Linked DNA regions of Homo sapiens. The protein of the gene in region 5 interacts with the protein of the main gene of each other region in a pairwise test. Each region holds a gene or a part of one and is shown on either strand. Other genes may lie near its edges. The genes, in order: WAS, ZNF426, PAK1, MEOX2 and RHOJ.

Evidence for each region.
Region 1: the proteins of RHOJ (region 5) and WAS interact in a two-hybrid assay, tested with the Homo sapiens proteins (one study listed by BioGRID).
Region 2: the proteins of RHOJ (region 5) and ZNF426 interact in binary tests that used the Homo sapiens proteins (3 or more experiments, as listed by UniProt).
Region 3: the proteins of RHOJ (region 5) and PAK1 interact in binary tests that used the Homo sapiens proteins (3 or more experiments, as listed by UniProt).
Region 4: the proteins of RHOJ (region 5) and MEOX2 interact in binary tests that used the Homo sapiens proteins (3 or more experiments, as listed by UniProt).

What each region holds. Positions count from the first base shown.
Region 1 is NC_000023.11:48,689,363-48,695,115, reverse strand, and holds the end of WAS (actin nucleation-promoting factor WAS), read right to left. Parts: coding exon 5,682-5,753; intron 4,967-5,681; coding exon of another isoform or gene 4,647-4,966; exon of another isoform or gene 4,010-4,646; coding exon 3,954-4,009; 3' UTR 3,689-3,953; downstream 1-3,688. UniProt on the Homo sapiens protein: Effector protein for Rho-type GTPases that regulates actin filament reorganization via its interaction with the Arp2/3 complex. Important for efficient actin polymerization. Possible regulator of lymphocyte and platelet function.
Region 2 is NC_000019.10:9,525,564-9,531,712, forward strand, and holds part of ZNF426 (zinc finger protein 426), read right to left. Parts: intron 5,505-6,149; coding exon 5,422-5,504; intron 4,074-5,421; coding exon 2,817-4,073; 3' UTR 1-2,816. UniProt on the Homo sapiens protein: May be involved in transcriptional regulation.
Region 3 is NC_000011.10:77,464,407-77,471,094, reverse strand, and holds part of PAK1 (serine/threonine-protein kinase PAK 1), read left to right. Parts: intron 1-6,688. UniProt on the Homo sapiens protein: Protein kinase involved in intracellular signaling pathways downstream of integrins and receptor-type kinases that plays an important role in cytoskeleton dynamics, in cell adhesion, migration, proliferation, apoptosis, mitosis, and in vesicle-mediated transport processes.
Region 4 is NC_000007.14:15,679,142-15,685,829, forward strand, and holds part of MEOX2 (homeobox protein MOX-2), read right to left. Parts: intron 2,840-6,688; exon of another isoform or gene 1-2,839. UniProt on the Homo sapiens protein: Mesodermal transcription factor that plays a key role in somitogenesis and somitogenesis and limb muscle differentiation. Required during limb development for normal appendicular muscle formation and for the normal regulation of myogenic genes.
Region 5 is NC_000014.9:63,286,669-63,293,356, reverse strand, and holds part of RHOJ (rho-related GTP-binding protein RhoJ), read right to left. Parts: intron 5,170-6,688; coding exon of another isoform or gene 5,107-5,169; exon of another isoform or gene 5,040-5,106; intron 2,480-5,039; coding exon 2,333-2,479; 3' UTR 1-2,332.

The DNA.
Region 1 (5,753 bases), on a different chromosome or scaffold from region 5:
GCTGGTCTGAGGTTCCGTCAGCCCCAGCTTGCCCTGAGGGGACAGACAGGAGCGAAGGTCCCACCATGCATCCCCTTCCCTCCCTTACTCCTTCTCGAGCAGAGTCAGGTGCTCATCCTCATGTACCCCCAGTCTCCTCGGGCAGCAGGGCTCTCCCACTCCCGGGTGTCCAGGAGACCTGTCCAACCCACAAGAGTGATTTAAGACAGGACCTCTGCCTGTCTGGATCTGAGAGGGAGACAAAAGGGTCTGTCGCCAGTAGTGCCCCCAAACACTATAAAGTAGTGGGCAAAAGTCTGGATTCTGGAGCCTGACTACCTGGACTCATATCCAGGCTCTGCCATTTACTAAATTACTTGATCTTAGGCAGTTTCTTAAACTGGTCTGTAAAACCTGCAGTAAGTGACCTTGGGGTGGGTGTCTCCTGCTCATCTGGAAAGTGAATCATTCTGGACTAGCACTTTTTCAGGAGACCTCAAAAGTTAAGAGGCCATCTTATTGCTACCGTGTCCCACTCCCAGCCAGTTGTCTGTTCATTCAGCATTAATTTAATGATTACTGCGTTGCCCAGTGCCGGAGCCAATATAAGGTTTTATTCACAGGTTTGACCTATTGTAATGTAAACCTCAGATTGGAGTGTAACACAAATACAGAAGGGTACACAGACCAGGGGTGAACACTGTAATGAGTTTTCACAAGCAGACCTACATGTGGAACCAGAATGCAGGCTGAGCAACCATTAAGCCAGATCTCAGAAGCATTTAATTGTTTCATATAAATTTATTGGGTACAAATATAATATTTTTTTTTTGAGACAGAGTCTCACTCTGTCACCCAGGCTGGAGTGCAGTGGCGTGATTTCGGTTCACTGCAACCTCTGCCTCCCGGGTTCAAGCGATTTTCCTGCCTCTGCCTCCTGAGTAGGTGGGATTACAGGCGTGTGCCACCACACCTGGCTAATTTTTGTATTTTTAGTAGAGATGATGGGGTTTCACCACGTTGGCCAGGCAGGTCTCAAACTCCTGGCCTCCAGTGATCCACCTGCCTTGGTCTCCCAAAGTGCTCGGATTACAGACATGAGCCACCATGCCAGGCCACAAGTGTAATTTTGTTACACAGATACATTGTGTAGTGGTGAAGTCAGGCATTTTACTGTATCCATCATCTGAATAATGTACATTGGCCTCCCAAAGTGCTAGGATTACAGGCATGAGCCACAGCGCCAGGCCACAAGTGTAATTTTTTTACATGGATACGTTGTGTAGTGGTGAAGTCAGGCATTTTACTGTATCCATCAACTGAATAATGTGCATTGGCCTCCCAAAGTGCTGGGATTGCAGGCATGAGCCACAGTGCCAGGCCACAAGTGTAATTTTGTTACACGGATACATTGTGTAGTGGTGAAGTCAGGCATTTTACTGTATCCATAGCCTGAATAATGCACATTGTACTCGTTAAGTAATTTCCTCATCATCTACTTCCTTCCCACCTCCCCACCCTTCCAAGTTTCTGTTGTTTATAATTCCACATGCTATGTCCATGTGTACACATTATTTAGCTCCCACTTACAAGTGAAAAGATTCAGTATTTGTCTTTCTGTTTCTGAGTTGTTTCACTCAAATTAATGGCCTTCAGTTTCATTCATGTTGCTGCAAAAGACATGATTTCATTGTTTTTTATGGCCGAATAGTATTCCATTGTGTATACCACATTTTTTTTTTGAGACGGAGTCTCGCTCTGTTGCCCAGGCTGGAGTGTAGTAGCGTGATCTCAGCTCACCACAACTCTGCCTCTCGGGTTCAAGCAATTCCCCTGTCTCAGCCTCCTGAGTAGCTGGGACTACAGGCATGTGCCACCACGCCCGGCTAATTTTTTGTATTTTTAGTAGAGATGAGGTTTCACCATGTTAGCCAGGATGGTCTCTATTTCTTGACTTCATGATCCGCCCATCTCGGCCTCCCGAAGTGCTGGGATTACAGGCGTGAGCCACCGCGCCCGGCCAACCAGAACACTGGATTTCTAAGATTTCTGTGGGGGACTGGGAGTAGGGATAAATGATGCTGATGGATCCTTCCTAGACTCAGTGCCCATCTGGGGACCTGGTCAGGGTGGGGTGGGGAGTGGTGTTGCGGTGTAAAGAATAATGAATTAAAGGAAACCTGAGACTCCCTCCTTCTCTAGCTTGGGGGAGTTCCCCTTTCCACCTAGAAATTCTTCCGTTGCTCTTGCAGACTGAAGAAGCCTGCCCTCTCTGGAGTCTCCCTCACCTTTATCTTCCTCCCCACTACCTTTCTCTTTTTCTCCTCCTCTAAAGGTAGGATGTCTGAGATCTCGAATTCACCAGATTTCAGAAATCGGAAGGGGCAGGGAGCTCAATTCTAGGCTTTGCTGTGCAACAGTTTCTAATTATGCCCTTGGAAATAGCTGTAAACGCCAAGGACGCTTTTGAGTTACTCCTTTGTTTCTGGGAGAGCAAGTCCTGAGGAGGCAGAGAGGTGACTCAGTGGGATCCCCGTTGGAAATCAGTTACCTCCATTGTATAGATGCGGAAACCAAAGCTCAGAGGTGAGGCATCTTTCCCGGGTTCTAGAGCAGATCTGTCTGATAATTAAGTCTTTGCCTTTTCCATTGCAATTGGCCAGTGCTTGATTTGAACTGGGAACTGGGCAGAGCCAAATTTTAAAAATGAGAGGGGGATCCTGCCCATCAAGATCCTGGTGTGTGAGTTGTTATGGGCATGGAGAATGGGGAGGTCTGCTCATTGAGTATGCTGCTCTTAATCTAGTATTGTGTTGATTGAATGATTTTTTTTTTTTGAGACGGAGTCTCGCTCTGTTGCCCAGGCTAGAGTGCAGTGGCACGATCTCAGCTCACTGCAACCTCTGCCTCCCGGGTTCAAGCAGTTCTCCTGCCTCAGCCCCCATTAGGAGCTGGGATTACAGGTGTGCACCACCATACCCAGCTAATTTTTGTATTTTTTAGTAGAGACAGGGTTTCACCATGTTGCCCAGGCTGGTCTCGAACTCCTGACCTCAGGTGATCCGCCCACCTCGGCCTCCCAAAGTGCTGGAATTACAGGCATGAGCCACTGCACCCAGCCGATTGAATTATTTTTTTAAAAAATAATTAAATGCATGACATCTGGCCTCATGCCAAGCCTTTTCTCACCTCAGGGCCTTTGCACTGGCTGCTCCCTCAGCCTGGAACCCCTTTTCCCCAAATATTAACTGGGCCGACATTTCTCTCTCTTTAGGTCCAGCACCACCATCACCTACTCCAAGTGACCATCCCTGACTGCTCCATCTGAATGTTGTTTCATCTGTATCTCTGCCTTACCACTCCACAGCATTTATCATGATCTGCAGCTATCTTTTATTTCTATTTGATTTCTTGTTTCTTGTCTGTCTCTTCCCCTAGAATGTGGATTTCACCCCCTAAGGGCAGGAATTCTTGTCTGTTTTTTTTCCCACTTCTTGATTCCTAGCCCCTAAAATAGTACCTGACAATAAATGTTGAAAGACAGAGGGGCAGAAGGAAACAAAGAAATACAGGCTAAATGACTGAGGGAATAAATGAATGAATGAATATATACATGTAAGGCTAAATAAATAAAATGGGATAAATGAATAAAAGGGACTTTGGGGGAAAGGGACCCCATTCCCACATTTGGAATGTAAACAGACTGAGATTTATAGAGAGACAGAAAGACAATTCTTTTATTTTTCTTTAAAAATCCTTGAGTGAAGAGAACTGAGAATTTTTGTATAAAAAGGGCCTTGGGATTGTTGGGTGAGTGTGAGGACCAGGCAGGGATAACAGCATTGGAGGGGTTGGTGGGGAAGAAATGGGGGGTTGGGGGCCTGGAAGAGGAGAGTGGAGGGTGGGCACAGAGCAGGTGGAGGGGGAGCCATGTCCTGCGGGGAGGAGCACAGGGCAGCAAGTAACTCAGCCACTCAGTCATCCCATTCATCATCTTCATCTTCATCGCCAGCCTGGTCCTCCCCTTCGTCTGGAGGGAAAGAGAAAGATAAGATGCCCTGGGAGGTTGGTGGGGGGCTTCATAGGGCCTGGGAGGTGAGGACTGGACCCTGGGGTTCTGAGGTCTCATGCTAGAGGAGGGCAAGTTAGAGTTTCCATTTGGGACAAGAAAGGGATTATAGTTGGGGTCTGAGTTCTAGTTGGAGTTGAAGTTTATGCTGTCAAAAATGTGGTTAGTCGAGATATTGTCAAACAAAGGGTTAATGTTAACCTATTTATCACATAATAGGGTGAATTTAAATAATATTAGCAAAGGTGTGATAATATATTATTGCTTCCTGTCTGGTTAACGCTAATATTTTTGACACATAATGGGGTTAATGACAATAACATCAAAATTAGCTGGGCGTAGTGGCGTGCCTGTAGTCCCAGCTACTCGGAAGGCTGAGGCAGGAGAATCGCTTGAACCCAGGAGGCAGAGTCTGCAGTTAGCCAAGATCGCGCCACTGCACTCCAGCCTGGGTGACAGAGCAAGACTCCGTCTCAAAAGAAAAAAAAAATCATTGTCGAAAGATGAAGTTCCTATAGTAGGTTGATACTAATATTTGCATCATATAATGGATTAGTGACAGTATTGCTGACAGATTAAGAGAGTAATAGTAACATTATTATAAAAAGATTAGGTTAACAGCCAGGCCTGGTGGCTCATGCCTGTAATCCCAGCACTCTGGGAGGCTGAGGCGGGGCAGATCGCTTGAGCCCTGGAGTTGCAGAGCAGCCTGGGCAACATGAGAGTAGTGAGAGCTTGGTAGTGAGAGCTCATCACTACCAAAAAAACACCAAAAATTAGCCAGGTATGGTGGCACACGCCTGTAGTCCCAGCTACTTTGGGAGCTGAGGCGGGAGGATCGCTTGAGCCTGGGAGGTTGAGGCTGCACTGAGCCATGATTGCACCACTGTACTCCAGCCTGGGACACAGAGCGAGACCCTGTTTCAAAAAAATTTTTTAAAAGATTAGATTAGGTTACGTCATAATGAATTAATGTAAATCTGTTAATACATGGAATTAAAATTAATATTGTCAACAATAGTGTTCTTCATAATATTGTCATCACATAATGGGTTAATTTTTTTTTTTTTTGAGATAGGATCTCTGTCACCCAGGCTGGAGTGCAGTGGCACAATCATGGATCACTGCTGCCTTGACCTCCCAGGGTCAAGCAATCCTCCCACCTCAGCCTCCCAAGTAGCTGGGACCACAGGCACACACCACTATGCTTGACTACTTTTTTTGAATTTAGTTTTTATGGAAACGAGGTCTCACTATATTGCCCAGGCTGGTCTCGAACTCCTGGGCTCAAGTGATCCTCCTGCCTTAGCCTCCCAAAGTTCCTGGATTACAGGCATGAGCCACCGCGCCGGCCAGCTGATGTTAATAGTACTGAACATGTGGGAATGACATTAATATTGTGGACACACCCTGGCATTAATGTTAATATTACTGTCAAAGTTGGAGTTAATTATATTATTGTCACATAATGACTTAATGTTAACATTGTCAAAAACGAGGCTGACACAAGATTCATGTTAATGCTGTCAAACAGATGGGGCTGATGTCACTATTGGTGGTGACTGCTGGGATTGTTTTGAGGCCAGTGCTAGCCCTGGGAGCCAGGTTTGAGGCCCCGGCAGGATCAGCTCACCGGAGGAGTGGATGGCTCTGCTTCTCTTCTGCATCACGTGCATCAGGGCCCCCACCAGTCCCTCTGAGCTCT
Region 2 (6,149 bases), on a different chromosome or scaffold from region 5:
GCAAGCTCCACCTCCTGGGTTCACACCATTCTCCTGCCTCAGCCTCCCAAGTAGCTGGGACTACAGGTGCCCGCCACCACACCCAGCTAATTTTTTTGTATTTTTAGTAGAGACGGGGTTTCACCATGTTGGCCAGGATGGTCTCGATCTCCTGACCTCATGATCCACCCACCTCTGCCTCCCAAAGTGCTGGGATTACAGGGTTGAGCCACTGCGCCTAGCCTTTTATTTATTTATTTATTTTTTTGAGACAGTGTCTCACTGTTTCCCAGGCTGGAGTGCAGTATCACAATCTCGGCTCACTGTGACCTCCACCTCCTGGATTCAAGCAATTCAGGCTGGTCATGAACTCCCAACCTCAGGTGATCCACCTGCCTTGGCCTCCCAAAGTGCTGGTATTACAGGCATAAGCCACCACACCTGGAGTTTTAGTCAGAGCTTCAGTGACCTGGAGGAAGGGAAATATCCAACTCCAGCCAACTCTATACATCCTGACCCAACTAAAGGGTGGGAAAAACTGAAGTTCACAGTGCAGAAGCACAGACTCACTGCAAGACTGACATCTAATCCCTGGACAATAGAATGCTGCCCCTCTCCCCACAGCTTATCATGATTACTAGAGGCCTGCTTACAGCATTTCCTCTTATCCAGTATGCCATGTCCAGCTAAGGAAAAATTACAAGCATACTAAAAGGCAAAAGTTAGTTTAAAGAGAAAGAGTAAGAACCAGAACCAGATATAGCAGGATTGCTGAAATTATCAGACTGGGAATTTAAAACAATTATGATTGATATGCCATGGGTTCTACTGGATAAAGCAGACAGCATCCAAGAACAGACAGGCAGTGTAAACACAGAGATGGAAATTCTAAGAACCACAAAGAAATGCTAGAAATTGAAGACAGTGTAACAGAAATGAAGAATGTCTTTGGTAGGCTTATTATTGGCCAAGAAACAGCCAACTAAAGAGCTTGAGAATATATCAGCAGAAACATCCACACCTGAAAAGCAAAGAGAAGAATAAAAAAACAAGATATAAGAACTGTGGGATAACTACAAAAGATGTATCCTACATATAAAGGAAATACCAGATGGAAAGAAAAAAAAAGGGAAACAATGACAGAATTTCTCAAAATTAACTCAGACACCAAAACGCAAATCCAGGAGGCTAAGCAAACACCAAGAAGGACGAGCACCAAAAACCTATACCTAGGCATATCATTTAAAAATAACAGAATATCAAAGATAACAAAAAATTTTCATAGAAGCCAGAGGGGGGGAAATGCTTTAAGTATTGAGGATCAAGTATAAGAATTACATCCAACTTTGAGCATAGAAGGAAGAAGTGAAGGTAAAATAAAAATGTTTATTTTTCTAATACTTAATTGATCTGATAACTTCTGAAAAATAGCTACAATGTATTAGATTACATATGCTAATTTGTGTGTGTTTATAGGCATAAAAGTGAAATATAGTAATGATGGAAGGTCTGAGAGGGAGGATTTAGGATTATTTTGATAGTATAAGGTACTAACACTACTCAAGAAACGGTACAGTATTATCAGAATTCATGTACTTATTATGGCATGTGAAATATTTAAAGGTTATACCATATTCCTTACCTTCCCAGGGTTCTGAGGTAATTTTACATGTGTAAAAAAAATTCTGTGGAATTAATGTAAGGCTTCCTACATGCATTACAGGTAAAAGGCTTCTCTCCAGTTCGACTTCTTACACCTTCTAGAAGGTAGAAAACATTAATGTAAGCTTTTCCACAATCCTAATGGGATTTCAGTCCACTCCAAGTTCCAGTATGGTGTATGGGGTCACATTCCTTGCGTTCACAGTAAAAGAAACTTTCTTTCCTTTTTTCTCCTCTATTTTCACATGGTCTACGACCAGACAACTTGCATGTGAATATTAAAATATAGTGAACATTCACAGGCTTTTTCATGCTCCTTACATTCATACAATTTCTCTCCTATGTGATTTCTCCTGTATGTAGAAAGGACTGAAGACTCAATGAAGGCTCTCCCACGTCTTACATTCATATAGTTTCTCTCCAGTGTGGCTTTGCATGTGAATATTAAGGCTTTTGGACAATCTATAAACGTTTTTGCTTATTGCTTACTGTATTCACTTGCTAGAGCCACCACAACAAAATACCACAGACTGGGTGGCTCAAACAAGAGAATTTTATTTGTTCAAAGTTCTGGAAGCCCAAGATGAAGGTGCCAGCAGGGTTGGTGGCTTTGATAGAAGGATCTGTCCCAGTGCTCTGTCTTTGGCTTGCAGATGGCCATCATCTGATGACTTCACATCATCTTCTATTTGTTGTCTCAGTTGTGTCTTTCTCTTCTTATAGGGACACCAATCATATTGGATTAGGGATGTACTCTAACAGACTCAATTTAATCAAATAATTTTCTTTTTTTTTTTTTTTTGAGATGGAGTCTCACTCCATCGCCCAGGCTGGAGTGCAGTGGCATGATCTCTGCTCACTGCAACCTCTGCTTCCTGGGTTCAAGTGATTCACTTGCCTCAGCCTCCCAAGTAGCTGGGATTACAGGTGCCCACCACACCTGGCTAAATTTTTTGTATTTTCAGTAGAGACAAGGTTTCACCATGTTGGCCAGGGTGGTCTCAAACTCCTGACCTCAAGTGATCCACCCACCTCAGCCTCTCAAAATGCTGGGATTACAGGAATTAAGTAATTTTCATGCAGCTTCTTCTCTCCAGAGTGAGTTCATTCATGTCTTTAAAGTGAACTGGAACAAATGAGAGCTTTCCCACATTTATTACATGGACAGTTTCTCACTAGTGAATTTGTTCATGTCTTCGAAGTGAACGGGGATGACTGTAAGCTTTCCCGCATTGCTGACATTTATAGGGTTTCTCTTCTGTGTGAGTTTTTTCATGAATTCTAAAGGAACTGGAACACGTGAAGGCTTTCCCACACTCCTTGCATTCATAGGGTTTCTCTCCAGTGTGAGTCCTTTCATGTATTTGAAATGAACTGGAATGACTGAAGGCCTTTCCACATTGTTTACACTCATAGGGTTTTTCTCCAGTGTGGATTCGCATGTGAATTTTAAGGTGGGTGGAATAGTTAAAAGCCTTCCCACATTCCTTACAGGTGTATGGTTTCTGGGCACTGTGCGTTCGCATGTGATTATTAAGACATGAGGGATACCCAAATACTTTCCCACATATCTTACACTCACAGGCCTTCTCTTCAGTGTGAGTTCTCAAATGTCCACTAAGATTTGAGGAAACTGCAAAGGCTTTCCCACATTCAACACATACAAAAGGCTTCTCTCCAGTGTGAGTTCTTATATGTTGAATAAGGCGTGAGGATGTAAGGAAGGATTTCCCACATTCCTTACATTCATAGGGCTTGTCTCCACTGTGAGATCGTACATGCATACTAAGGCCCGAGTACTGAGTGAAGGCTTTCCCACATTCCTTACATACATAGGGTTTCTCTCCAGTGTGAGTTCTTCCATGTATCTGAAATGAGTTGGAATAATTGAAGGCTTTCCCACATTCCTTACATTCATATGGTTTCTCCCCAGTGTGGGTTCGCATGTGAATACTGAGGTAGGCTGGGTATCTATAGCCTTTTCCACATTCCTTACATTTGTAGGGCTTTTTTGCATTGAGGGTTTCTATAAGCACAGAAAGGCTTGTAGAGTCAATAAAACCTGGCCCATAATTCCTCCATTCGTAGAGTTTTTCTCCATTGTGAGTTCTCATATGTGCCTGAAGGTATGACTCATTAATGAAGGATTTTCCACAGTGACTACATTCAAATGACTTTTCTTGTGTGCTAGTTCTCTGGTATACAATATTTGGTGTCAGGCTGAAGATTTTTTCACTCTGATTAAACTCAGAAAGTTTCTCACCAGTAGAGGTTTTCTCACACAGGGTAAGGAAATCTTTTCCATACTGATTACAGTCATGAGTGTTCCCTGTACTTTGAGTTCTCACGTGCGTCTTAAGGCATGAGTGTTCACTGAAGACTTCTCCACATTGCTCACAGTCACAGAGTTCCCTTCCATTGTGTTTTCCTTCCTGTTGAAGGGATGATGATGATTTAAGGATTTTTCTCAAACATATTAACAGAACATACCCATCTGAAGCTAGAAACATTATAATGGTGATTATAATTGATGCCATTTTTATTACATGCATTCAGGTCCTTCCCTGTAGATTTATTTTAAGTGGTATGACTTAACTCTTATTCTAGAATGTTGTGCCATCTACTTTAATCTTGGCTAGGCATGGTGTCTCATGCCTGTAATCCCAGCACTTTGGGAGTCCGATGGGGGGCAGATCACCTGAGGTCAGGAGTTCAAGACCAGCATGGCCAACATGGTGAAACCCTGTCTCTACTAAAAATACAAAAATTAGCTGGGCTTGGTGGCACATGCCTGTAATCCCAGCTACTTGGGAGGCTGAGACACAAGAATCGCTTGAACCTGGGAGGCGGAGGTTGCAGTGACCCAAGATCACACCACTGCACTCTAGCCTGGGCAACAAAGCGAGACTCCGTCTCAAAATAATAATAATAATAATAATAACAGATTTCTGTAGAATTCAATGTCTAGATGGGTGCAGTAGCTCACATTTGTAATCCCAGCATTTTGGGAGGCAAAGGTGGGTGGATCATTTGAACCCAGGAATTAGAGACCAGCCTGGGCAACATGGCAAAACTCCATCTCTATAAAAAATATCAAAAAATTAGCTGGGCATGGTGGTGTGTTCCTGTAGTCCCAACCACATAGGAGGCTGAGGTGGGAGGATCACTTGAGCCAAGGGGTCAAGGCTTCAGTGAGCCATGTTTGTGCCACTGCAATCCAGCCTGGGTGACACAGCAAGACCTTGTCTCGACCAAAAAAAAAAAATTCATAGTCTAAGCCAGATGTGGTGGCTCATGCCTGTACTCCCAGCACTTTTGTAAACTGAGGCAGAGGATCACTTGAGCACAGGAGTTTGAGACTAGCCTGGGAAACACAGTAAGACCCTGTCTCCACAAAATTTTGAAGAATTAGCTGGGTGTGGTGGTGCATGCCTGTAGTCCCAGCTACCAAGGGAGGCTGAGGTGGGAGGATCGCCTGAGCCCAGGAGGTCAAGACTATACTGAGCCATGATTGCACCACTGCACTCCAGCCTGGGTGACAGAGCAGTATCTCGTTTCAAAAAAACACCAAAACAAAACTCAACGTCTAGTTACACTTGTGGGAATGTGTGAAAGCTCCAAAGAAACAAGTTTCACAATTGGAGCATCCCTAAATTCTTTGCTCCCTCTCATGTGTATGCAACTTCTCTCAAATATCTCTTATTTTTGCTGACTTCCCATAACAGAATTCCTGATTTTCTCTGAGGGTGGAAAATAAAAAATATCCTATGCAAATCTTACCAATTGTATCCCAATGGATGTCTGACCCCTCAAAAAGTCCTGCTGAAGTATAGACCACTGGGTTTCAAGTCGCATTTCCCATCCTGAAATAAAACAGACAAACAAATAAAAGGACTCAAGCTAGGCACAGTGGCTCATGCCTGTAATCCCAGCACTTTGGGAGGCTAAGGCAGGTGGATCACTTGAGGTCAGGAGTTTGAGACCAGCCTGGCCAACATGGCAAAACCCCACCTCTACTAAAAATTCAAAAGCTAGCTGGGTGTGGTGGTGAGCACCTGCAATCCCAGCTACTCACGGGGCTCAGGCTGGAGAATCTCTTGAATCCAGGAGGCAGAGGTTGTAAGGAGCTCAGATCACACCACTGCACTCCAGCCTTGGCAACAAACAGAGTGAACCACAACAAGAACAAATGAAAGGATTTGGAGAAAGAAATGCAAAGAGTTCAAAACAATATGGCTTATTTCTATTTGTTTCAAATTAAACATGGCAAGAAAAAGCAGAAAGACATTTGGGGATTTGGGCTATATCAAAAATTTGGTTTTGATGTAAATGATCCAAAGGGGGAAAAATTGGCCAAGACAAGGACATGGGGTAAAACTTTTCGATCGTTTATTACAAATTGATGCTATGAAAATTAAAACTGATAGTGAATAGAGAGAATCAGGGAATGAAAGTAGGAAATTTCTGAAAAAAGAGCGTATATCTAAACAATTAACTTGGCCGGGCAC
Region 3 (6,688 bases), on a different chromosome or scaffold from region 5:
AGGCACTCAAGTATTTGTTGAATGAATAATGTAAGATGATTTAATTCTATGTATTGCCAGCTGCGACATTGGGGTTTTACTCAAGAACCGTTCTCAGAATGAATAGGAATCATGGTCCAATGTGCAAATCCAAGGGGATCCTAACATTTTTGGGGGATTCATTTTAGGTTGAGCTTTTCCCTTTATGTGTCTCCAACCAAAGCCTGCAAGAATTTTTAGCCTAGTCTTTTGTTCGTTTGTTTGTTTTAACCACCACCTGAAAACTGCTGTTGCAATATTCCAAGCCAGGATTGTTTCTTTTGAATTTGCAAGTTGGTTTTGCAAGTCTAAATAAGCACTCTTAACTTTTGAGTCTTTTAACTTAAAACTGTCTCTTCCTGGTCTCCTGTGGTTTTTGTCTTTCTCTGGTGATACTTAAAGCTATATAGGGCCTGTTTGACTCCACACAAAGGTTTCTCTTCCTTGTCAAGCTCTTAAAATGCTTTGTTTCTTTCACTTTCTTATTAGCCCTAAGATACCATGCCCAGTTTTCTCCTTTCCTAGCTTCCTTCTGGGAGAGTGGCTTCAATTATTCATCCGTTTACTATAAAATTATGAGTCCTTCTCCACCATGTGCCAGACCCTGTGCTGGGCAGGATGTTCAGCTATATACAAGAGTGCAGCCCAAGTCTTTAAGGAGCTAGAGATAATATGACATGATAAGTGCTGAAATGAAGAGATGAAATAGAGGGATGAAAAAAGGTGGTATATGATCATAAAGGGGGGGAGAAAGCTGCCTTTCTATTTGTTTCCCTCAGTTTAGGAATAATTTGTCAAACAAGCATCATTTTGACAGGCAGACTTTTAAAAAATTTTAAGAGGTCATGGGCTTTGTTGGGGAAAACTAAAACAAAAATCAAGGTGGAATCAGCAGTTGCCAATTTGAGACATTAATTCTGTTGTTGCTGGTTTTAATGAATTTTCTGATCCCTCTCCATGTTATTTTTCTAAATAATAACCAGAAAGTGGGAGAAAAATATTTCTTTTTGGCATAGTAAAGAGACAAGTTTAAGGTTATCAAAAGAATACATCTCACTACAGTTTATTGTTTATTTTTGAAAAGCGATAAACAATATGCATCTAAAAACGAGGCTTTTGACTGTTTATGATAAAGAAATGATAAATGTTTGGAGTGATGAATATGCTAATTATCCTGATTTGATTATTACGAATTATATACATCTCAAAATATCATAAATATGTACAATTATTACATATCAACTAAAAATAAAAGGAAAAATGCATTGATTCAAAATTAATAGTCAGTATATTCAAACTTGAAAATAAAAAATTTAAAAACATTCTCCCACACCAGTGTTTGCTCCTTCTGGGTCATTTTCTATGCCCATTATTAAAAAAAAAAAAAAAGTCTCTTCACAGATGTTTTAATTTCTAAGGGGTAATGTTGTAATTTGTAGTGGGTGAAAATGAAACCCTGGAAAAGTTAGGAGACCTTCTTTAGTGTCTATGTTACTGCATGACCTTGTAGAAGTAATTTTTATCTCTGTGTTTTGTCCCAACTGTAAAATGGGGATAGTAATAGTTGCTACGACTAGTTTACAGGATCATGAAGCAATTAAAATAATGACTATAAAGGAATCTTTGAAAAGTATAATTTGCTTGTTAGTTGTTAGGTGGTGGTAAGCTTACTAAAAATGGCTTATGTTACTGAATACCTGTTCTGTACCAGGCCCTATATGAGATGTTTAACATGTTCTTTTTAACCCTCAGAATAACCTTATGAGATGATTGCTGGTATCTCTGTATCATAGGTGAGGAAACCTGAGAGTCATACTAGTAAAGGGAGCTTATTTAAGGTTTTGCTGCAAGTAAGTGGCAGACCAACAATTCTAGTCCATGTGCACCTGACTCCAGCAGCTATGTGCTATTTTCAGTACAGAGGCTGCTTTTAATGTTTCTGCACAGAGGATATAGGAATGTTTTGCAAGTAAATATATTGCAGTGAGAGTTAAAGTTTCCATTTGGTATGTTTTTTTTGTGTGTGTATTAGAAGGCTTGGTGAAGACAGATTTACATTCGTTTACATTTATCATTCATACAGGAAAAATAACATCTTTCCTGGATGTTATTTTGTTCAATCTTCGTAACAGCCCTATGAGATAGGTATTCCCATTTTACGAGTTAGCAGGCTGAGGATCATATTAATAGAAGTCTTGGCTTGCTCAGAGGCACATCATTAATGAATGCCTGAATATTGATTTTAAACCACATTTTAAAATTCTAAGTGTAGTACTTTACTTTGCCACTATAACATATTGCCTTTTAAACTCTATCAAACTAAATTTTGGGGCACTAGACACATTCTTTTAAATTGGTTCCTAATCTCTTTAGCTTCTTCTCCCTAAGAAAACCCTGACTGAAGTCCACAGTTTGAACTAGAAAGGATAATTGCTGATAAAACTCTATGTCAGATGGTCATGATGTTGCAGACTTAGAAGATAATACCTCTTTACTGAAGCTGCCAGATCAGGCTTTATCCAGTATTTGGAATCACTTGTGCCTGAATATTTCCCTGTGCCATCGTAAATTTATTAACTTAATGTGCTACATTTTTCTACCCTTTTTGTAAGCCTTTTCTTTCATGAATATCTTCCTCTTCTCTCCCATTCTTTTAGTTTTTGAGATGGGGAAAGTCATGTATATGCTAGGCTTCTCCGGATTATCCCTTCTTGAGGAATAGTGTAGTAGTAAGTCTAGAAAGAACCAGAGGTTCATTCATCCCTCATGAGTTTTCGTGGTATTGATTGACTGTAGAATTCATCTAATTCTTAAGTCCATTATGTCTTGGCTTTTGTTCCTGGAGTCAGAGTTAGGTAATTTGCATGCAGGATTGGGAAATCCATTCTTGTTTATGGGCTGCTTTCTTTTATTACTTTTCTACTTCCAGCCTTCTCCAATATCCCTTTCCCTTTCAGACTGTTAAGTACTAACTGAGGCTGGCAAGAGCATTTTCTAATTTATAGAATCTGCCTTTTGAATCTTTTGGGATGGCAAATGACAATGACAGTATATGCATGGCTTCCACCCTCATCTGCCTGCCTATATCTTTAAGGTCCAGCTTTCCTTATTTCCTCCTGGATTCCCACAAAGCTAAGATTGATGTCTTCCTCACTGGTGGAACCCTTGATTTGTGTATTACTGCACTTACCAAGGGAGGGTTTAAGGAAGAGCACAAAATTTGAAGTTAGACAAAGAGCTACTTGGACACTTATTTAAATCTCTATTTGTTCATTTGAAAGAAATAATACCTAACTTACAGAATTCTTGTGAAGATTAATAATATATGTAAAAGTGAATTGTAAGATACTGAGCTATATAGATGTTAGGTAGAGTAGTTTGTAATTTTATGACTATGATTGTGTGTAGCAGTGGTTTTAATTTCGGCTATGCACTTGAATTACTTGTGAAGATGTAAAGAGTTGCCTTGGCATCTCTATTTTGAAAGGTTTATAGGTGATTCTGATATGCAAAGTTGAGAAGCACTGCCTTATATTAACAATGTTTTGCATAAATGTCTTATGTAAGTATTATATGAAAAGTAATATTTTATTGCCATTTAAAGTTCATTCATTTGCTAAATACATATTATGCATCAGGCATTGTCATAGGTTCTGAATAAACAGATGAATCATAGCCTCTACCCTTGGGTTTATAGTTTCCGGGAGAAACAGACATGTGCATAGACAATTACACTACATTGAGACAAAAAATGACAAAAATATGGAGATAAGTGCAAGTGCCATGTGAACACAGAGGAAGGGCATCTGCTGCACTTGAAATGGGGGTGGCCTGGCAAGCATTCTTAAAGGAGGTGACATCTAAGATGGGTTCTGAAAAATGATCAGGGGTTAACGAAGCACAGTCAGGGAGGGGTGAGAAGAAAGGGGAGATGATGGACCCTCTTGAAAGAGAGAGCAATATGTGAGCAGAAGATTTGAGAGCCTGTTTGGGGAGCCCTGTGTAGTTTAGTATGCTTAGAAGATAGGGTGTAAAGTGGGGAGGCGTGAGAGCAGAGAGGAGGCAGGGCCCAGATGATGAAGGGCCTTTTGTATAATGTACAAAATACTTTTACTGATATTATCTGACTTTATTCTTTGGACAATCCCCTGGGTTAGCTAGGACAGGTGTTGTTTTATATTCATTTGATAGAAGAAAACACAAAGAGGTTAATTGACTTGCTGAGGCTATACAGCACAGCTAAGATCTGAAGCCAGGTTCTTATGATTGTTTAGTTCATCATGCTTTTTCTATTACACCATAGCCGTCTTAGACTTTTGCGGTGTGGTAGGGAATCAGGTAAGCTCTGTGGATATATGCACAACAATTTGGAAGCTGTAATGTGCTAGACTGATGTTGGCTAACTCATTTTACAGATGAGGAAATTTAGGAGCAGAGACATCAAGCTGTCATTTGAAGACTTTTTTTTTTTTTTGAGATGGAGTCTTGCTCTGTCGCCCAGGCTGGAGTGCAGTGATGCGATGTCGGCTCACCGCAAGCTCTGCCTCCCGGGTTCACGCCATTCCCCTGCCTCAGCCTCCCAAGTAGCTGGGACCACAGGTGCGTGCCACCATGCCCGGCTAATTTTTTGTATTTTTAGTAGAGACAGGGTTTCACCGTGTTAGCCAGGATGGTCTCAATCTCCTGACCTTGTGATCTGCCCGCTTCTGCCTCCCAAAGTGCTGGGATTACAGGCGTGAGCCACCTCGCCCGGCCTTGAAGACATTTTTAAAAATTATTACTGTGTAACCACAGCAAGTCACTTAACCGTCCTGAGACTCAGTTTTCCTTAGCTGTCATATAAATGTGTTGAATTTGATGCCAACTTCTTTGCTTGAATATTTCGACAGTGATTCTTAACCTTCTCACCTACTCCCTGCCCTCACCCTTTCTCTGTGATACACTGGGATGTAGTCCATCAGTAACAGTATTTCACTATGGAAATAGTTCCCAATGGGCTACAGGAACAAAATGTAAATTGCCAGTTTTGGGGATGGGTAAAGAGGGACTTGGTATAGTTGGAGGGGCTCTTGGTTCTCCAATTACCTGTTAGAGAATTACTATTAATATTTTATTTATTTATTTTTTTGAGACAGGGTCTTGCTCTGTCATCCAGGTTGGAGTACAGTAGCTCCATCATAGCTCACTGCAGTGCTGCCCTCCCGGGCTCAAGCAATCGTCTCACTTTAGTCTCCGAGTAGCTGGGACCACAGGGGCATGCTACTAAGCCCAGCTAATTTTTGTATTTTTTGTAGAGACAGGGTTTTGCCGTGTTGCCCAGGCTGGACTCAAGTGAACTGCCCGCCTCAGCCTCCCAACGTGCTGGAATTACAGGCATGAGCCACTTTGCCCGGCCAAGAATTACTATTTTATAACATTCCCTCCCACTTATTTTCTCATATGGAATTATCTCACCAGTCCAGAGTCTGAGATTTTTTTGGTATCCAGGATAGATTTTGCTTAATTTAATAAATTACATATGTAATTTGTAAAGTAACTTAAAAAAAAATAAAGAACCAGGTGAGCAAAATGAGAAAGCCCATTGTGATAGACTTGAAAAGTCCAAGTTTCCTGGACTTTCTAGAGATTATATATAGGATTATATATATAATTTTTGTGCTTTACTGTTTTCAAAACCCTTTTATATAGAGTCTCATTTAACTTAATTCTGTTCTTTAGCCATCATATTTTTATAAATGAACAGAAGTTAAGTGGCATGATTATGTAGCTGGGAAGTTACAAACTGGAATCTTTAATTCATATTTTCTGTCTCCAAATCTGGTCACCTGTTCCTGATCATTTGGGTGCTGCCCTGACCAGTGGCACTTTTTAAAAAATTGTAGGTTCCTAGGAGAATGGTAAAATATATTTATAGTTCCCTCTAACTCTTTCAAAAAATCGTTTTTTTACTATCCATTGCCACTTGCCGGATAATTGACTTAGTTGACTATGTGGTAAAGGTTCCAGGACAGTTAGGAATGGCTGCTGAGTATATTCTTCACACACACACAGACACACACACAGACACACACACACACACACACACACTCTTTCATGTATGTACCAATCCAATACAGCTGGTCCCTGACTTACAGGGGTTCAACTTAATGATTTTTCGACTTTATGATGGTGTAAAAGCAATATGCATTCAGTAGAAACCATACTTGGAATACCCATCCAATCACTTTCAGTGCAGTATTGAATAAATTACATGAGATATTCATCACTTTATTAAAAAATAGACTCTGTGTTAGATGATTTTGCATAACTGTAGGTGAACGTAAGTGTTCTGAGTATGTTTAAGGTTGGGTAGGCTGAGCTACGATGTTTGGTATGTTAGGTGTATTAAATGCATTTTTGACTTAAAGTATTTCAGTGTAAGTTGGGTTTATCAGGTCGTAACCTAATCATAAGTCAAGGAGCATCTGTACAGCTCTATAGTGCTTCTATTTATTCCTTAATTAGACTACACATATTTATTGATTTCTTCCTGTGTGCCAAGCATTGTACTTAGTACTAAGGATACACTCATAAATAATACAGACATGGTCCTTGTCCTTGCTCTTACAAAGATTACATTCCAGAGGGTAATACAGAGAAAAGTAAGTAGATATACAAGTGGACAGTTGCA
Region 4 (6,688 bases), on a different chromosome or scaffold from region 5:
TATTATCAGGAAATTAAATTTGGAGTTACAGTAATGCATGCATATATATGTGTGGGTGTGAGTGTGCATATACCTATATATGTATATACATATATAAAGTAAACGCCTTCTTTTAACGTGTGTTTTAAGTATAGCTTCCATGTCCTAGTTAATTCAGCACCCTCCCTTTTATCCTTTCCTTGCCATTGTCCTCTCTACTAGACTACAATAAAAACAAAAAACTATGAAAGTAAGCAGCTTATAATCATAATTTTAATCAATGTAGCCTATGCAAGCTTTAAGAAACATACGTCTAACATCTTAGAAAGAAAGCTTATGAACACAAACAGCAGAATACTTAAATACATTTGAAACATTCACATTGAATTGATTCTACAAAATTTTGAAGAGCAACAGCTTTTGAATTTAGAGCTATAATCAGTACCCTAAAGTTTTTACCACTGAGTTACTACCTAGTAAAAATATGTTATATTTGCAATAAAAGTACACATTGTAAGGACATAAGAATTGTCATCAAGGTACACAAACATTTTAGAATTATTAAACATTTAAATAAATGGAAATTTTAAAAATAAAATAACAATATTATCATACAAGTTAATGATCCAGTTTATTAATTTCTAATTCTATTGATAAAACAAGGGATTATTTTTGAAAGGGTTTTTCTATCTTTCATACAAACCCTTTCCAAAAATGTATAGATACAGTACGGATTCTACCTGATCATTCTTGTGCATATGGTGATGTAAGAAACCAAAAAAATGTAAATTATTTTCATAACACTGTGAAAACCAATATTTAAAAATACAGTGCACAATTAGTAGTGAGTAACATATATAAATTTAGAAATATTATATTTCTGTACACAAAGTAACATTATAAATGAAAGCTTCAGGAATAATGAGCTACTTATTATTCCGGAAATTATATATCAAAAATTTCAAATATAGAGGAAAATTAAAAACCCACTCATGACCCATGAAAATTAATAACCCATTCGATCATACACTTACCATGTAACTTTCTGTTAATTTGGTAATAAATAATGTCAAGAGATTTTAAATGAAAATACTTATTCTGAAACATAAAAACAACATCTGAGATGAGCACAAATGGATCAATAGATACATTATTGATTATTTTGTATCATAAAATACTATCTAGTACAACATTCTTTAAAAAATTCAATATTTTTATAATGTAAGTAAAACGGGAAGAACTGTTAGAGAAATGGGCATCAGATTTAGATTAATTCTGCCTCTAACGCAAATTGTAGGCTGAGCCCTATATGTTCTTGACCATTCTAAGTTTTACTACATTAAAACACATAAAATATTCTGCGAGGTTTTCTCCAATGGGATTTTGAATCTCACTGATGACTGTGATTTAGGAGTAATGTAGAGAGTTTTGCAACTAACTTTACTTTACACCGTTACTCCTTTTCTACTTGGGGGTTCAGTTCAACACGCTAGTAAAAGAAATAGTCATGAGAGCATCCTAAGGAAAGTAGGCAAAATGTTAGTGCCTCATTATATTTACAATCTTTACAAAACATGTATGTCAGTAAACCATATTAACATCTAAAGCACATGATATGTAGAAACAAATTGTGACTACAAAATGTGTCTTGTTTCTTAAATATGCTAAATAGGAAATAAATCACATCTACTTCAATTTTTAATCTGTGGACTTTGGCCTTAGTTTGTGTTTTATTTTATTTTTTTGCTTTTGATTTTAACCACTGAAATCATTTACCAATACTATAAGCCAGGAAATACAATGTAACTGGCCAGTTGAGAATTAAGCCTTCTCTTTTTATTATTACAATCAAGGGGGGAAATGCTTATATATCTTCCTGCACAAAATGTTTCATTTATCAAAAAAAAAAGTGAGAAAAATAAAGAAAATTTGGGTGAGATAAATAATCCACAACTATTAATTCAACAGATATTATTTAAGAAATTCCTACCTGTAATTTATTTTCTAATATTTCTGCATCCTTAGTATTTATCGCTCAAAGATATTTGCAGCCCTCATAGCAGTGCTTGGAAAAGAGATTTGCTCTGAAAATTTAGAAATAAATTCCTGAGGTGAATACAGTTCAAAACTAAAATATATTGCTGTATTATATTGGTTTTTCTCATTTGAAATTAAAATCTAAAAAACCTTCATATTAGGTTGTGTGTGTCAAGCTGCCATTATAAAAACACTAAATGAATAAAATTTCGCAAGCAAGGCAGCATTATCAGGCTAAGTACATGTAGTGGGCTTATATATGGTGATGTTTTACATAATTCAGCTATTAATTCATCTATAGATTTACATTTCTTAAGTGCAAAAAAAAATGTAATTATTTCATTACATATGGAATTCACCTCCCAAATTTCTCAGAATCTAAGAGAAAGGATTGACATTTTCTGATATTTCATTTTTGCTTAAAATTAAGTTCTTAGGATGTTTAGATTTTATTATAAATATTACAACTTAAATTCCAGAGTTATAATGAACGGTCTATGTTTTGAAACACAGAGGGAGAATGGGGTAATGACTGAAGTACTGTTTTTTCAGTTTATTAGTAAAGATCAGCTTATAAGATGTCATTGTAAAGGTTTCTATTGATAATTACCATAAACAAAGATTAAAACTTTAAATACTAAGTTCTGGATTTCTAAGCCCGGTGAAAGTTTGTGCAATACCATGCCTTGCATTTATGATTTTTCTTTTAAAATGAACTATAAATGAAGAAATTTACACAGAATTGGAAACTATTCCTACTTTTATTTGCATTCTTCCTTCCATTCATTGCTAATGTTCAACAATAAAGCATTTTAATTCTAAAGGAATTGTTGCTTTTAACTTGAGTGTGATTATTTTAGATCACATTTTAGAGCCCTCATGTAGGTCAATGATACTTAGAATTTTTTATGTCAGATTACCATTTTTAAATGTTCACACCTAAAATTAGTCTACCAGTCCAAGATAAAGAATGGAAGTTTTTTTTTGTACTCCATTTGATTTGTTCAATACTTCACTTTAATCTTCAAGATCCAGTATATTATTTTTTAAATTCTAAAGCAAATGCTGAAAAGCCACAATCCAGTAACACAGAAATGAATAATAACACTAATTTATTCCTTTCAGAAAACACAATGATTGAAATATCTTGGAAATATTACAATATCATACTGAATGAGGTTGATAAGGTATTACTCTGAGTTTAAGTTCCAACTTATTAAATGTAATATTTGCTAGTCATTCTGCATAGTCAAGCATATAGACAGACATAATTTGACAGCAAAGGTTTTATGACATAGTAGCTATAAATAAAATATTTGTAATTTTACAAGAATCTAATATGATTCAAAACCTAGTAAAGTCTACCTCCCCAAATCGCTCTTTTCTTTTTTGATGTAATTTCTATTTTTTATAAAATATGTATCATAAATTTGAATAGAAAATATCTAGATATGTACACTGTATAACCATGCACAAAAGCTAAAGTTCGATCAATGAATTAATTTTAGTTATTTTAACTAAAACTGGGCAGTTTATTCCTACTACTAGATTGCTCAAAGAGCAACCAAATGTAATTGAAGCCAAGCAATTCACACTATTTATAGACATTTTTCAGAATCACCTGCTTTGTAGTGATTTTTTTCAGCAGTTGTAAAGTTTTGATTTTTAAGAGTCCCTTTGAAGACGTGGCAGATGTTGGCTTTGCTAATAATGCTGGAAAGCGTAGCAGGTTCAAAGTTACAAAAATGTTTAACACATATAAAATATAATGGTGTGTTTTTCTATTAAATTTGGTTATTTTCAATTGTCAATAAACTTACATAAAGGAAGCCTAAAGTCCATAAATATTTGCTTCCAAAACATGAAGCTGCTAGAGTTTGCATATGTGTGTGTCCATGTGCATTTGTGGAGGGAAAGTGCATAAAATATATGCTAGAGAAGCTTACGTATTATAGTTTTAAATCGTTACTATGAATAAAATTGTAAGGTTTATAAATATTTAAGCTGTTTTTCAATACTTTCTGGTGCTTAAAATTCTATTAGAATTTAACACGGTAATTAGAATTAGCACATACACATACAGTCTAAGTATTAGATGCAGGGATACAGAATTTTGGTCCTGACTTTACCCTGGATTTATGTACTGAATTTTCTCTCAACCATAAATGCAAAGTAATTATAAACTACCTAACAAAATACAAATGATCTCACTATATAGGATGACATTTTTATCTAATACAATTTTAAATTTCAGGAGTTCCGAAATCACTTCAATTTTATATTTTAGAAATATTGAAATACTAAAATGTGCTATAAGCAATGAGAGATATACGTATTAATAGCATACCAGGATCATAATCATTTTCAATATTGTTTTAGTTTGTGCTAGATCAAGATGTCTATGAAATAAAATATCTTTGAAGATAATTTATGGAACACCTAATGCAATTGTTACACGAGAAAGATATCTTTAATTTAAATCTATCTCAATATCTGACAAATATACCTTCAGCTGAAATTGGCAAATAAAATTTTATTTTCAATAAGTGTACATAGATTTAAACAGAAACTATTGTGATTTTCCTTTTAGTCAATATTTCTTCAACATATCAAAGGAAAGAAAAGCTCATTCTAAATCCCCAGTATTTTTATCCTTGGTGATGACTAATTGTACTTTCCACTGAAGTTTTAATCTGTTAATAATTTATGTAGCTGACACAAACACTTATATTTGCTTGTTTTTCCAGTACCCTCATTATCAGCTTCAAAATGTAGAAATGAATTTAATTTTGTTAAATGGTTATTTCCCACTAAGTTGGGGGGGAGAGATAAATTAGTTTTGTTAAATTATTCCATTTTTTAAAAAAATTATTAAAATAAATTAAGGGAATCAGTTATTGAATTCCGTTTTCTCAGTTTTCCCCAAACAAAATAACATGTGCTTGTATGAAAATTGTTTGCCCTGAGAAACTTAAGGGCAATGGCTCAGTTCAGGAAGCATGAAGAACAATCTATCATGTAGGTTTCTCATTGCAAGAAATAAAATGAACCGTAAGAGCTTATGGGAATTGCAAGAGTACGCTCATCAACCCGAACTGGGATCTGCTTCCAAAGTTACACTGATATCAAATGTTCAGTTTATGAAATTGTCACTGCATTCTAAAATCGACTGTTTTTCTAATAAAAATTGAAACCTTTTTGCTATGATTAACCTTTCAACTCACTATCTAAAGAGAGTTTCACTTATAGTTAGGAAAATACATTAAATATCAGTGACACTACTGGTAATTTTCTTATAAAAACTAATTTGTGATGGAACATTAAAAGTTCACCCCCTGACCTTGGAAAATAAAAGTTAGCTTTTGAGACCGTGAGAGAAGAATCCATCCTATAGTAACGCTGAAGAACAATTGATATTGCTGTGAATGGTGAAGGAATATTAAATATGCGGCCAATCATTTTCATTTATGTGGCATCTTACCTAAAGCTTTACACACGATCAACATTTTTCCAATCCTTCAAACCAACATATGGGATTACCTTCTAGGACTATTATTAACCCAATTCCACAGAGGAAGAAAAATATGCAAATATTATATTAAACAAATGACACCTTCCAAAAGTATTTAATCCAGGTTGCACTATACCCACGAAAGAAAACTCACAAGTCTCTTAATTTTAAAGTATCTTTTAACAATTTTATAAAAATACAGGTAGGTAAGAGCTTTGAAAACTTGTCTGGAAACTTTGAGTTTCTCTGGATTGCTACAATTTATTCGGCACGTTGTGCCTTCAAGCACCAGAGGTCAGGAAGGTTCCCCTTTTGCATGGCTGCTCAAATTATCCCCACTGAAATCAGCGCCTCCTGCGCGCACCCTTGCATACCCCTTTAGACACGTATCTAACTAACAGTACCCGAGTTGCTGTTGCTTCGCAGTATTTGTCTCTACTAATACCCACTTGGTAGAGGGATTTATTTTCCACTTTTGAAACTTAGGTTCTGTAATTAGCTTACACCACATGGACATGTACTATTAAGGTTCGTCTTTCTTCCAGTGTGAGCATCTATTTATTTACAATTCTCTGACACATTCCTTAAAATCTGAATTCCTAGATAATGTCTTCTTCCCCAATAAAGGGAAAATTTTACCATTTGAAATAGGGTGCTATTTAAAGAACGCTGAAATAAGAATGTTAAAAAAAAAAAACTGAAACTTTTTTTTCTCATGCGCTCTGCCAAGTTCCATTGCAAGTTCCAAACATTGTGCAATAATTTGGAAATCCAGTTAACGATGGGAAAAATCGAGCCACTCAGAGTCGGCAACTTGCAAGAGAAAAGTCAAGAAGCGGCACCCGCACGCACGCCTGCCCAACGGACGCTGCATCCCTGGGCGCACGCCCCTCCCTCCCCAGCGCTGGGATGGAAGGTCACGCTTCACAATCGATTTCACAGCCACTTGTCCTTTTTTATCAACCTTCTGGTAAACTAGTTTAGGACTTTGGAGGGCTTAGAGCTGCTGGCTGTATACGCATTGCTCTCGAATAAACACGTGTCCCCAAATATCAGGACCAAAGCTTCACCGCCGAATTTGGCCGCAGGAAGCCACAGAGGGCAACACATTCCCATCTTCCCTGCTGCCACCCTCCAGTGCGAGAATCTCCCCTAGTATCT
Region 5 (6,688 bases):
GGAAGTGGTGACCTCGGGAGCTATTTGCCTGTTGAGTGCACACACCTGGAAACATACTGCTCTCATTTTTTCATCCACATCAGTGAGAAATGAGTGGCCCGTTAGCAAGATATAACTATGCAATCATGCAACAAAGCTGCCTAATAACATTTCATTTATTACAGGACTAAAAGTTCATTATTGTTTGTAAAGGATGAATTCATAACCTCTGCAGAGTTATAGTTCATACACAGTTGATTTCCATTTATAAAGGCAGAAAGTCCTTGTTTTCTCTAAATGTCAAGCTTTGACTGAAAACTCCCGTTTTTCCAGTCACTGGAGTGTGTGCGTATGAAAGAAAATCTTTAGCAATTAGATGGGAGAGAAGGGAAATAGTACTTGAAATGTAGGTTGTTTTTTTTTTTTTTTTGACAGGTTCTTTCTCTGTCACTCAGGCTGGAGTGTAGTGGCACAGTCACAGCTCACTGCAGCCTTACCTTCTGGGCTCAAGTGATCCTTCCACCTCAGCCTCCTGAGTAGCTGGGACTACAGGTATGTGTCACTACAACTGACTAATTTTTAATTTTTTTATAGAGACACAGGATCTCACTATATTACCCAGGCTGGTCTTGAACTCCTGAGCTCAAGCGGCCCACCCACCTCAGCCTCCCTAAGTGTTGGGATTACAGGCATGAGCCACGGTGCCTGGCTATCACGCAATTCTTAAGTGCTTATTCCAGTAGCAGAAGAGATTAGAAAGGCTGGCTTTTTCCAACAGTGGGAGCTTGAATCTGGAAAGTCTTAAAGTTGTTGTAATTTCACACTACTAAGAAGCACTTTGCTCATGCAACTGAAAAAAAAATTAAGTGCCTACCTGGGTGATTCCAGGGCACTTATAAGCAACTAAGACTAATTAGAAGTCCTCATAGCCTCTAATGAAAAGATAGGAAGTAATTCGCTCTATGATACAAAAATTCCTGGATGTTTGGAATTGTTTTACATCATTGGGCACAGGATTCCTTACTGGGAGCTTTTGCTTTCCCAGGGCCAAAGTCCCTGTTCTATGTCACACATTGTGGAGGGCAGGGGACAAATGGATACAGAGCTTGGTATCCACTGATATGGCTCCCACAAAGACATTTGGGAGGATGAGTAAGGAAAGAGAGAGGCAAAATCTCAGTACCAGTTGTAACTGGAAAATGTCATTTACATGGAATGAGAACTTACATGGGGCGAGCTGAGAAGCACTTTCAGTTGAAGCAAATAGAAAAATTAAGGCACTTTCCTTTACTTTTAGTTATTTTTAAACACGTATCTTTATGCTCAGATCTTTCTTTTATAACTGGGTTATAACTGGGGAGAATAAAAGGATCCGGGCATGAGAGAAAGTGAAATCAAGGGAGGAAGAGGGCATGCAATGGGGGAAGGGAGGAGCAGGAATGTCCACTTTACTGAATACAAAATACTGTAAAAGATGGATCCTGCCATATTCTTCCCCCAATCAACTTGGATGAAAAACAGAAATACTACATTCTTAAACACAGTTCATTTTTAGTTTGTCGTGGCAATACATGGAAAAAAATCAGGCCACTACTAAGCATCTATAGAGTGTATCTTTGGCAAAAATGTGGACCTGCAACAATTCAGATGGTTTTCTTTCAATTAGGTTCAAAAATCATGGCTCTGTAAATTTCCAAAACTTTTAAAGTCTTCTCATGTCTTCTTATAATCGGGCATTCAGAGGTACGTGTTGGTTCTAATAGCTTTGGTAGAAACATGCTGAAAATAGAAATGAATATAAAATGCCTTGTCTTTAGGCTAATTTGGTATGGATTAGTAAGGCCTGAGTGAACTGGAAATTAGTACATTTCTTGAAATAATACAAATGAATGTGAGACACATGGGTAGAACAGCAGATTCAGAAAAAAAGGTTAGTATTGTAGTCCCAAGTTTTATAAAAGACATCAAGTAAGGCCAGCAATAGAGGAATCAAGTTTCTTTTTCGGGTTCCCTGGGGTGATTTCCTATCAGCTTCACGTTCATGAGCTGGGGATTTGTAAAATGTGAGATGGCCTTTGACTTTGTTTTTGATGCGATCAGCAGCGGCACTGTCTGCAATCCAGGCCCAGCATTCTCAGACAGCGTGCAGTACGGATGCTTCTGGCTGGCAGGGAGGTCGTGGCAGTGGGCTGACTAGTGTGCTGTGTTGGGAGGGCTCAGAGGGTGATGGGGCAAGCCTCCGTGCAAAGGGAGTTCCTTTCTGGTCGTGCCCTCCTTTTTGGCTGGAGCTTGGCCACAGAGATTGGCTGCCATTCTCATCCCTGGATGGGGTGGAGGCAGGTCCCAGACAACCTCAGATAATTGAACAGCAGCTGTGACCCTCAGAACAGCGTTTCTTCTTTTTCTTGGGGTGGAAAATGGTGAGGATTGCTTCATCAAAAACCGCTTTGAGACCTTTCTGAGTCAGAGCTGAACATTCCAAGTAGCACTGTGCTCCGATCTTAAACACAAAAGAGAGAAAGGCATGAGAGATAAAAAAGAGAGAAAAGCACAGTGGTATCAACTCACTGCCCAGACAAGCACTTACTTCTGCCTGTCCTACAAACAGCCTGTGGGGTGGTTTGGATTATGTTTGTCTTTTTTTTTTTTTTTCCATTTCAATTTGTATCTGCTATCCTATTTTTTTTTTTTTGTATTTTTGTATTTTTTACTTTCCTTTATTTGCAATAAATGGTTGTGGATTACTTCTGGAAAGCAGTAAATCCTAAAATTGACCCATAGCCATTTATTCCTAAGAACATAAAAAATGCAAAGATCTAAAAAATTAGGAGACAATTCAAAACCAATGATATAATTTAAATATGTTTTGTGAAGAACAGGGGTGCATGATCTTGTTTTTCATATCCTCTCATTTGTAGGCAGAATGTGTAAATCATGTACAAGTGAAATGTATCTTCTTTGGTATGATAAAAGGCAAAGTGTCAGCTTGGTTGATAAAGCAGATAGAAAGAGAGTGAATGATATGGTTTTATAGGTCATTCTTGATTAAAATGTACCTCTTTTAAGGTATCCCTCAACAAGGTAATATCCAATTGGCATTATTATTTAGTTTTAACATACTTTATTTATTTATTTTTGAGATGGATTTCGCTCTTGTTGCCCAGGCTGGAGTGCAGTGGCACCATCTTAACTCTGCAACCTCTGCCTCCTGGGCTCAAGTGATTCTCCTGCCTCAGCGTCTCAAGTAGCTGGGATTACAGGCGTGTGCCACCAAGCCGGGTTAGTTTTTGTATTTTTAGTAGAGACGGGGTTTTCCCATGTTGGCCAGTCTGGTCTTGAACTCCTGACCTCATGTGATGCGCCCGCCTCAGCCTCCAAAAATGCTGGGATTACAGGCATGAGCCACTGCAGCCAGCCTTAACACACTTTAAAAGGCATATTTTTTAAAAAGTTAAAAAAAAAACCCACTAAAACATGTAACAATAACAATAAAACATGTAACGATAATCATAAAAGACATTTAATGCCAGAGACATCCTGTCAGTGTACAGTCTATATATTTAAATGATAAGGTATTTCATACTTGCATAGGGCTTCATTTTAAATATTCTGATGATTTCATACTATGGTGTGTTTGATAATCACAAACCTCTCATGAGAAATATAGAAATTCAGGCCAGAACTATAGATTCTCATTTAAAAATCACAGACCAGGGCAGACCATATTTAGCAGTCAGCTTCTTGTGAAGGAGACCTGCGGTTTTATTTGTTCATAAGCTCAGGAAGAGTCAATGATGTGATGTTGGCCTTTTACTATTAAGGACATCTGGAGAAATGACTTTAGTTTTTGATTCGCATTTTAAGAATCACTTTGAAAAATTAAAGCAGATTCAGAAGAGGTTGGCTAAATGGCGAGTTCCTGGAAACTACAGCAGACAAATGGCTAAAACAAGGTAGCAAAATCATAGGCCTATTATGCCCAATAGCTTATGTAAATGATAAAGTGGGGCTGGCGCAAGACAATAGGGAGAGGAGGGGACTATGGTGGGCTGTAAAGCACATGCCCCCTCTAGGGTGTGCAGTCTTATCAGCTTCCAAGTGGTAATGTTGGTTTACTATTGCCCATTTTTGTATTTTTCAAGAGGAGTTGGACATTTGGATTTTTTATTTAATATTTACCAGTTTATGAACTATTTACCATGGGCCAAGCAAGACACTGATGTGGGATATATTTGGCAGCAGCCAGCCAGTTTGCAATGTGTGGACTAAGTGAACTTGTGGTTTAGCTTAGAACAGAGCGGGAATAACCCCAGAGAGGTAAAATGAATTGCTTATGGGCACTCACCTAGAAAGTGAAAGAAATAGACCCAGAATCTGGGTCTCTTGATACATGTTCATTTCCTTGCTCTGTGGCAGTAACTGTGACCCCTATCACTCAGCTCTGCAAGAAGCTGGTCAAGTTGACAGTTAATGAAATGAGATTGTCCACTTATTTCAAAGGCCACAAATATGAAAACTAACCATCAAATAAAGTGGTTTTGGTTGGGCCCAGACACTATTTCCTAAACTCTCCGACAGAGATTATGCATTTTTCATTTTTTTCCTGACAAGAATGGTTACTGAATGAGCCAAGGGAAAATACCAAAAGAAAACGATGTTGGATGTTGAAAATCTATTTTATGGCTTTCATTTTGACCATGGTTTGGTTTTCAGATTAGAAAATAACTTTTTTAAATAATTAAAAACAGTTAGATACAAGAGAGGAATAAAGCGCAGAGAAAATTTTCCTAATAACATAATGAAATGCCTTCTATTGCATTTTGGGACTGTGTTCAATGCTTGATTCAAACACATGTGAAAAGCACATTAATCTAATGGCAACAGCGTTGCCAACTGAATGATTCTGAATGACTTGACTGTAACGTGGTGGCACTTGTCTGGAAAATACCTAGAAACTGCTGTAGCACCTTTCTATCTGGAATACCTCTCCACTAAGGATCCCAAGCCTAGGATTGATTCTGCCTGGAATTCCAGGACAGCTGGGCTGAGCTCACTCACACCTGGAGTCCTGCAGGAGGGGCAGGGCACTCCCCATCCTCCTGCCCCCAGTGTGCAGCTGACAGCATGTCAGGCTTTGCCTTTCGATGGAGCGGGAGGAGCCCAAGCTTGTCTCTTCCAATTCAGACATTTCTGAAGATAATGAAATAGCAGATAAAGGCATTATTGTGTAACTGAGTTAATATGACATTATGTTGTACTGATAGAAAAAGTAGTCATCAGATTATTGGTGTCATTTGGGAAACACGTGTGAGAAACAATCCAGTTATGAGGTAGGTATTGTTACCATGTGTCAAGTGCTATGAGGGTCGGAGAAGAATTCATCCCGGTTCAAGGAAAAAGCACAGCCAGATTGCTAAAAAAAATGATCTGTGTCCTCAAAGATGTGAAATGAAAAATTGTCTCAAGGAAATGTGGCCCTTATTACAGCAGCAACTTCATCTGCTCCTTGGAGCAAAATGACCTACACAGTCAAGTATTTAGAAGCCATCTGGGAGGGTTCAGGATTCAAGCCTCCTTGTTTAGATACACATGCAAGCAAACTGGAATGTGTTCTACCCAAATGACTTATTTTCAAGAAAAAAGTAGAGATTGAGGGTGTAAACTGAAAAAACACTTTTCTTATTGTTTTATAATAGCTAAAACTTATTATCTCAAAAGCAGGGACATTTATCAGCGATGTACAGAAGATACAAGAGTGATAAGAAAAAAAAAAAAAAACCGTAATGACTAATCAAGTAAAAGAAAACCTAGTACTTCTTCCATGTTGTTCTAGTTGGGGCAGGACAAGTTATAGAATAAGATAGAAAGTAACTGGAAGGGATAAAGGCAAAGAGATCTTCCCAGCTGTAGACATGTCTGAGAGGGCTCATGGATTTAACAGCAACTATAGTTTGCTGAGCTGGACCTTGTGGTACATGAGCTAATTTCATTGTCACAAGAACTTTACAAGGAAAAATCTGTCACCATCCTCATTTCACAGCTCAGGAAACTGATACCCAGAGAGGCTAAGTAACCTCCCTTATGGCCACACAACTAAGAAAATGGCAGAGATTCGAATTTGTCTGCCTCCTGAGCCAAAGTCTTAACTACTCTTTTGGGCTGTCTCTAGCAAATGTCATGAAATTGTGGCTGAAAGAGCAAAATTAATGAATAAATGGGCAAAGCTGTTACGGATATAGTAAAGGTGATGAGAGAAGGGAAGAAGAAGGAAGGCATGTCCTGTAAATGGAGAGAAAAGAAGAGAAGATGTTAGTGGAATAAACAGAGTAAGCTCGTATCTAAAGAAATGGCTAGTAGCAGAGTAGTTCTGTATTCCTCATTTGAGAATTAGCAAAGGCACACAGAGAAGGCAAATAGAGAGCCAAGAAAAAGAAAAAGAACCAAACAGGTTGTAAGAGAAAAGCCGCCATCTCAACAAGTCAGCATTATGATCAAATTGGTGAAAGAGGAAAAACATTTCTAGGCCAGACAGATTTGCTGCTGATCTTTGAAGACTATAATGCAGAGATGCCAATTCAAGGCTGGATAATGTAAAGTGTGTTACTTGAGTATAGGATAATATGGAGTGGTGGGGATTGTGGCAGACTGAAGAATACATGCTTAATCTAAGAGACTGTTTAACAGTTTCTGTTGATGAGGAAATGCTGGG